2 linked regions of the Homo sapiens genome follow. The protein of the gene in region 1 interacts with the protein of each later gene in a pairwise test. Each region holds a gene or a part of one and is shown in the gene's direction. Other genes may lie near its edges.

Region 1 (3,655 bases):
TAGTATAATATATCTAATATAATTATACAATATTATAATTATGATTTTTATATTACATTACAATTATATTTTTATATATAATTATATATATATTTTTAATATTATATTATATTTTTATTTTATATATTATAATTATAAATATTTTTATATTTATATTTTTATAAATATAATTATATTTTTATATAAAATTAAATATAATTTAATTTTATATAATTATAAATATTTTTATATTTTATATTTATAATTATAATTTATATTATATATTTATATTTATATATTTATATTTATTTATATTTATATATTTAAATATTTATATTTATAGTATATATAATATAATATATTATATTATATATAATTATAAACATATATAATTATTATATTATAATTATAATTATAATGCTTTTAATAGTAATAATACTTTTAATAATAATAGACAAGTGATTAGCTTTTAATGCTAATCACTTTAATAATGCTTTTAATAATAATAATGCTTTTAATGCTTAATAATAGACAAGTGATTAGCTTTTAATGCTGAGATTTTGCAACTTGGAGGCTGTGCGACTCTAGACAAGTGACTTAGTTCATTGCTTCTCAAACTTTAATGTGTATGCACGACACCTGGGGAATCTTGTTTAAAAGGCAGTCTGATTCATCAGGGCCTGAGATTCTGCATTTCCTTTTTTTTTCCCCTTTTTCTGGAGACAAGATCTCCCTCTGTTGCCCAGGCTGGAATGCAGTGGTGCAATCCATAGTTCACTGCAACCTCAAACTCCTGGGCTCCAGTGATCCTCCCACCTCAGCCTCCCAAGTAGCTAGGACTGTGGGTATGTGCTGCTATGCCAAGCTAGTTTTTAAATTTTTTGTAGAGATGGAATCTTGCTGTGTTGTCCAGGCTGGTCTCAAACTCCTGGCCTCAAGCAATCTTCCTGCCTCGACTTCCCATAATGCTGGGATTACAGATGTGAGCCACCACGCCCAGCCAGATTCTGTATTTCTAACAAACTCCTAGATGATCCAAGTAGCTAAGCCTATTTGTGTCTGAGTGGCTTCAACTATGAGAACCTCAGCTGTAAAGTAGGAGGCAGATGGTATGTACCTTACATCAATGCACCTTTATGCCGAAGAGGTCTTCTCAAGAGTGTGTTTGGCAGGAGAGCCATGACTGGGTCTTTCCTCCTTTCACAAGGCTTGACCTTGGGTGGGGACCTCAGACTTGCCACCTCTCCACAGCTGCCTAAGATAGCTGCCTGGGTGACTCATGTCTTGGGAGAAGTCTTGTTGTAGTGACTTTTTTTTTTTTTTTGAGACGGAGTTTCGCTCTTGTTATTCTTATTATCATTTTTGAGATGGAGTCTTGCTCTGTCTCCCAGGCTGGCGTGCAATGGTGTGACCTTGGCTCACTGCAACCTCTGCCTCCCAGGCTGGAGTGCAATGGTGCAACCTTGGCTCACTGCAACCTCTGTCTCCCAGGTTCAAGCAATTCTCCTGCCTCAGCCTCCCCAGTAGCTAGGATTACAGGCACACACCACCGTGCCTGGCTAATTTTGTATTTTTAGTAGAGACGGGGGTTTCATCATGTTGGTCAGGCTGGTCTCAAGCTCCCAACCTCAGGTGATCCGCTCGCCTTGGCCTCCCAAAGTGTTGGGATTACAGACATGAGCCACTGCACCCGGCCTGTAGTGACTTGTTAATGCATAAGCCTTCTGGCTTTACGACTTCTGCCTTGTAATTCCCACAGCTTGGGCAGATTCATTCAACCTGGGGTTCCGATGTGTTACTTATCCCTGGCTCTTTGTCCTTTGCCTACAGGTGGTGGCCTTTATGAAGTCTCCAGTGGGTCAGTACTTGGACAGCCATCCGTTTCTGGCCTTCACCTTGCTGGTGTTCATTGTCATGTCGGCCGTTCCTGTTGGATTCTTCCTGCTCATCGTGGTGCTTACCACCCTGGCTGCTCTGCTGGGGGTCATAATATTGGAAGGTAGCCTGTTCCGTCATTCACCCCTTTAGAAAATAATTCAATTGGGAGAAAAATACTTTTGGGGCCATTTAAAAATTTTTTTAAGGGGCGGGGTCTTGTTATGTTGCCCAGGCTGGTCTCAAACTCCTGGGCTCAAGTGATCCTCCCACGTCGGCCTGCCAAAGTGCTGGGATTATGGCCATGGGCTACCATGCCTGGTTGTCTGCCATTCTTGTCAAAATCACATCAAGCAAGGCAACTTATCAGAGTAGGTAAAACATAGACTCTGGAGCCTGCATTCAAATCCCACCTCCACCACTGTGATTTGGGGCAAGTGGTTTACCTCTCTGAGCCTTAAATTCTTAATATGTAAAATGCAGATATAATAATACAATCTCAAAAGGTTGTTGTGAAGATTGAAACTTATGGCTCCATAAAGTCCTTAGCACAATACACAATACATGTCACAGAGTAGCTTCTCAATGAATGCTAGCTATTATTATTAAGCAGAGAGGCCATTCATTCCACAGTGAGTTATTGGGCACCTACTGCATGCCAGATGCCTCGCTAGGTACTGGAGACCACCTTCATCCTTCCTCCTGAAGTTCCACTACCAACAGTCAACTTCTCCCTGTATTCCTAAGTTAAAATTACTGGGAAAGCAAATCTGATTTGCTCACTTTGACTTTTCAAATCAGATCACACACCCCAGGCAAGTGGCCAAAGAGATGGTGGCCAGTGGGTCAGGTGATCACTTCTGGTCCATTCCGTGGCTTCCCAGAGCTAAGAGCACCCAGGGCTGTTTATTTGCCCCAGGGACAAGGCAGTTTACACTTGAAGGAGAAAGTAGGCATGGTCAGTGGATGAGCCAAATACAGCCTGGCAGAGTGGTTTTTGAGTAAATGTTGATAGATAGATGGGTGAATGCATGAATGAATGGATGGAGGAATGAATGAGTACCATAAGAAAGGAAATTTATAGAGAAAGGAGAGAGCCATTACATTTTGGTGGTACCATGCAAAGCTTTACAGCAGACAAGACTTTAAGGATGCATAACAACTTTGCCTCAGGGTGGGCAAGGAAGGGCCTTTTGGACAGGGGAACAGCATGTGCAAAGCCTCTAGAATAGTGGTTCTTGAACCTGAGTGTATTTAAATCTTTTTTTTTTTTCTAGATGGAATCTTACTCTGTCGCCCAGCCTGGAATACAGTGGCATGATCTCAACTCACTGCAACCTCTGCCACCCAGGTTCAAGAAATTCTCCTGCCTCAGCCTCCCAAGTAGTTGGGATTACAGGCATGCCCCACCATGCCCGACTAATTTTTGTATTTTTGGTAGAGATAGGGTTTCGCCATGTTGGCCAGGATGGTCTTGAGCTCCCGACCTCAAGTGATCTGCCCACCTCGGCCTCCCAAAGTGCTGGGATTACAGGTGTGAGCCACTGCACCCAGCTCCAAGTGTGTATAAATCTTACTTTCTTTATCAAAATACAGACTTTGGATCTTTTGAGACCAGGAGTTCAAGACCACTCTGGGCAACATAGCGAGATTCCCTCCATCTCTTTAAAAAAAAAAAAAAAGAGGCCGGACACAGTGGCTCATGCCTGTAATCCCAACACTGGGAGGCTGAGGAGGGCAGATCACTGGAGGTCAGGAGTTCGCGACCAGCCTGGCCAACATGGTGAAACCCCATCTCTAC
Region 2 (3,655 bases), on another chromosome or scaffold:
GAAGATGGAAAGGCAACTGTCTACCTCTCCATAAGATCCATATTCCACATGAGTTAAGTATTCTTCCCTCTTTTCTGAACGTGTGTTTCATCATACCAACCAGAGACACATTTATTTCTCTTTTAAAGGAACTTCCGTTCTTAGATGAGTCTGCCAAATTTTGCCAAGGGGACTATTCTTCATTTGCCTGTTGACTGTCCTTAATATCTTCAACACTCCCTCACTCTAATTCATCATTAGATGATTAATGAACACAGGCTTTTTTTTGGCCTATTTCTTGAATGGTTTCATCTGAAACACGGACCTTGAGATCTTACATGTCTCCGAGGATTTGAAAAAGAGTAGATTCATTCTAGTTCTCTCCCCTTAGTCTAAGCAGATGGCTATGTGCCTCAAAGTTTGGGATCTAAAGTTAAACTACTAGGTATCCGATAGCTTTGGACCAATCAAGTCCAGCATCTTCATTTTGCAGGTGAGGAGACATAAAACCAGATTGTTTATTTTTCCCTGGTTTCTATATAGCTACCAATGGAGCTATAACCAAAATCCAGATTACCTAGTCAGTGCCTATAGCTCTGGGCCTCTATCTGATGTTTCCCTGAATTGTGCTGAGGATGCCACTTGCACTTCAGTGGAGGCCAGAGACTTTATTGATTTTATTTTTTTTGAGATGATGGAGTCTTGCTCTGTCGCCCAGGCCAGAGTGCAGTGGTACAGTCTTGGCTCACTGCAACCTCTACCTCCCAGGTTCAAGCAATTCTTCTGCCTCAGCCTCCTGAGTATCTGGCACTACAGGTGTGTGCCACCATGACTGGCTAATTTTTATATTTGTATTAGAGATGGGGTTTCACCATGTTGGGCTAGTCTCGAACTCCTGACCTCAGGTGATCTGCCTACCTCGGCCTCCCAAAGTGCTGGGATTATAGGTATGAGCCAAAGCCAGAGACTTTACTCCATCGGTTACATAGATAGGGCTGTTAGTGAGGCTGAGATTTACTGCAGCCTTTCAGGGACTGGGTCTGGGAGGCAGTCACTCTCTATACCCCTACAGCACTCTGAAGTCAAGATCATGCTGATAACCTTCTGACATCAGTGGAGTTTAGTTTCTTGGCCATTTACAGGCCGCTAAACAGAAAGTGTGATTCAGGCATTCTTTCCCTGTCTGTTGAGAAGCAACACATACTGTATAGTATAATGAGTTTGAATCTAGGATTTATTACTTGGCCTTGTGCCAAATTACTTAACTTCTCTGTACTTCACACTATTTTTTTGTATTGCAGGAATAATAATAATTCCCCTCAGAGTTATTGTGAACAATAAATGAGTCAATATTCATACAATTCTTAGAATAGGCAGGCCCAAAGAAAGACCATTTCTGGAGACTACTTCCAAGTTAGATTCCTTTCACAAGTTCTTTTTTCATTTTTTCTAGGTAGAAAGTTTCCCTAGTGGAGTTTGTATGTGTCTATCATATGTGTCACATGCACAAACACATCTAATGCATAATACAGTTGTATATATAATGAGCTTATTTGAAATGAAAAAACAACTACACTTTGAGACTCTTGCACTGTACAGTATGATATGGCTTGAATATGTGTCTCCACCAAATCTCAAGTTGTATTGTAACCCTGACAATGAGGTGATTGGATCTTACAGATTGATACCTCAGAGCTTGGTGCTGTTCTTGTGATAATGCATAAGTTCTCATGAGATCTGGTTGTGTAAAAGTGTGTGGTACCTCTCCACCTCTTCTCCTGCTTTTGCCATGTGATGTGCCTAATCCCCCTTTGCCTTCCACCATGAGTAAAAGCTCCCTGAGGCCTCCCCAGAAGCTGAGCAGATGCCATCACCATGGTTGTACAGCCTGAAGAACTGTGAGCCAGTTAAACCTATTTTCTTTATAAATTACCCAGCCTCAAGTATTTCTTTATAGCAATGCAAGAATGGCCTAATACAGCAAATTGGTACTGAGGAGCTGGCTTGGCTATAAAGATACTTAAAAATGTGAAAGGAACTTTGGAACTGGGTAACAGGCAGAGGGTGGAAGAGTTTGGAGGGCTCAGAAGATGGGAAGATGAGGGAAAGTTTAGAATTTCTTAGAGACTGGTTAAATGTTTGTGACAAAAATGCTGATAGTGATATGGACAGTGAAGTCCAGGCTGACAAAGTCTCAGATGGCAATGAGGAACTTATTGGGAACTAAAGCAAAGGTCATGTGTGTTATGCCTTAGCAAAGAACTTGGTTGCCTTGTGCCCCTGCCCTAGGGATCTGTGGAAGTTTGCACTTCAGAGTGTTGATTTAGGGTATCTGGCAGAAGAAATTTTTAAGCAGCAAAGGAAGATGTAGCCTGGCTCTTTCTAACAGTCTATCTGTCCTCAGATGTAGAAGCAAAGAAATGATTTAAAGTTGGAAGTTATATTTAAAGGGGAAGCAGAGCATAAAAGTTTGGAAAATTTGCAGAGGAAAGAAAAAAAAAGCTTTTTCAGCAGAGAAATTCAAGCAGGCCATGGAGCAACCACTTGCTATAGAGAGTTGCATAACTAAAAATGAGCCAAGTGCTAATAGTCAAGAAAATAGGAAAAAGGCCTCAAAGGCATTTCAGAAATCTAAGAGGCGATGCCTCCCATCATAGGCTGAGAGGCCCAGGAGGACTTAAGGATTTCAGAGCCAGATCCTGGGTCCCACTGCCCTGCACCACTCCAGGAGGCTGCTCCTAAATCCTGGTTGCTCAGGCTCCAGCCATGGTTCCAATGGGCCCAGGTACAGCTCAGGCTGCTGCTGTGGAGGGTAGAAGCTGTAAGCCTTGGTGGCTTCCATGTGGTGTTAAGCCTGTGGATATGCACAGTGCAAGAGTGAAGGAGGCTTGGAAGCCTCTGCCTAGAGTTAAGAGGATGTATGAGAAGGCCTGGGTGTCCAGGCAGAAGCCTGCTGTAAGGGGCAGAAGCCCCTTTAGAGAACCTCTACTAGGGCAGTCCAGAGGGGAAATGTGGAGTTGGAGGCCCCACACAGGGTCCCCACTGGGGCACTGCCTAGTGGAGCTGTAGGAAGGGGGCCACCATCCAGACCCCAAAATGGCAGATCCACCAGCAGCTTAGACTCTGTGCTTGGAAAAGCCACAGGCATTCAACAACCTGGGAGAGCAGCATGGGGCTGAACTCTGCAAAGCCACAGAAGTGGAACTGCCCAAGGCCTTGGGAACCCACCCCTTGCATCATTGTGCCCTAGATGTGGGACATATAGGAGCTTATTTTGGAGCTTTAAGATTTAATGACTGCCTTGCTGCATTTCAAGCTTGAATGGAGCCTATAGCCCCTTTCTTTTGGCTGATTTCTCCCTTTTACAATGGGAGTGTTTACCCAATGCCTGCACCTCCATTGTATCTTGGAAGTAAATAAATTGTGATTTACAGGTTCATAGGTGGAAGAAATTCATCTCCAGATGAGACTTTGGACTTGGACTTGGGACTTTTGAGTTAATGCCAGAATGATGTAAGACTTTAGGGGACTATTGAGCAGTCCCCTAAAAATACTGATTGTATTTTGCAATGTGAGGACTTGAGACTTGGGGGCCAGGAGCAGAATGATATGGTTTGAGTATATGTCCCCATCAAATCTCATGTTGAATTGTAATCACCAATGTTGGAGGTGAAGC

The links.
Region 2: the proteins of LDAF1 (region 1) and ZNF391 interact in a two-hybrid assay, tested with the Homo sapiens proteins (one large-scale study listed by BioGRID).

Annotation. Positions count from the first base shown.
Region 1 is NC_000016.10:21,168,628-21,172,282, forward strand, and holds part of LDAF1 (lipid droplet assembly factor 1), read left to right. Parts: intron 1-1,809; coding exon 1,810-1,978; intron 1,979-3,655. UniProt on the Homo sapiens protein: Plays an important role in the formation of lipid droplets (LD) which are storage organelles at the center of lipid and energy homeostasis. In association with BSCL2/seipin, defines the sites of LD formation in the endoplasmic reticulum.
Region 2 is NC_000006.12:27,391,604-27,395,258, forward strand, and holds part of ZNF391 (zinc finger protein 391), read left to right. Parts: intron 1-3,413; exon of another isoform or gene 3,414-3,492; intron 3,493-3,655.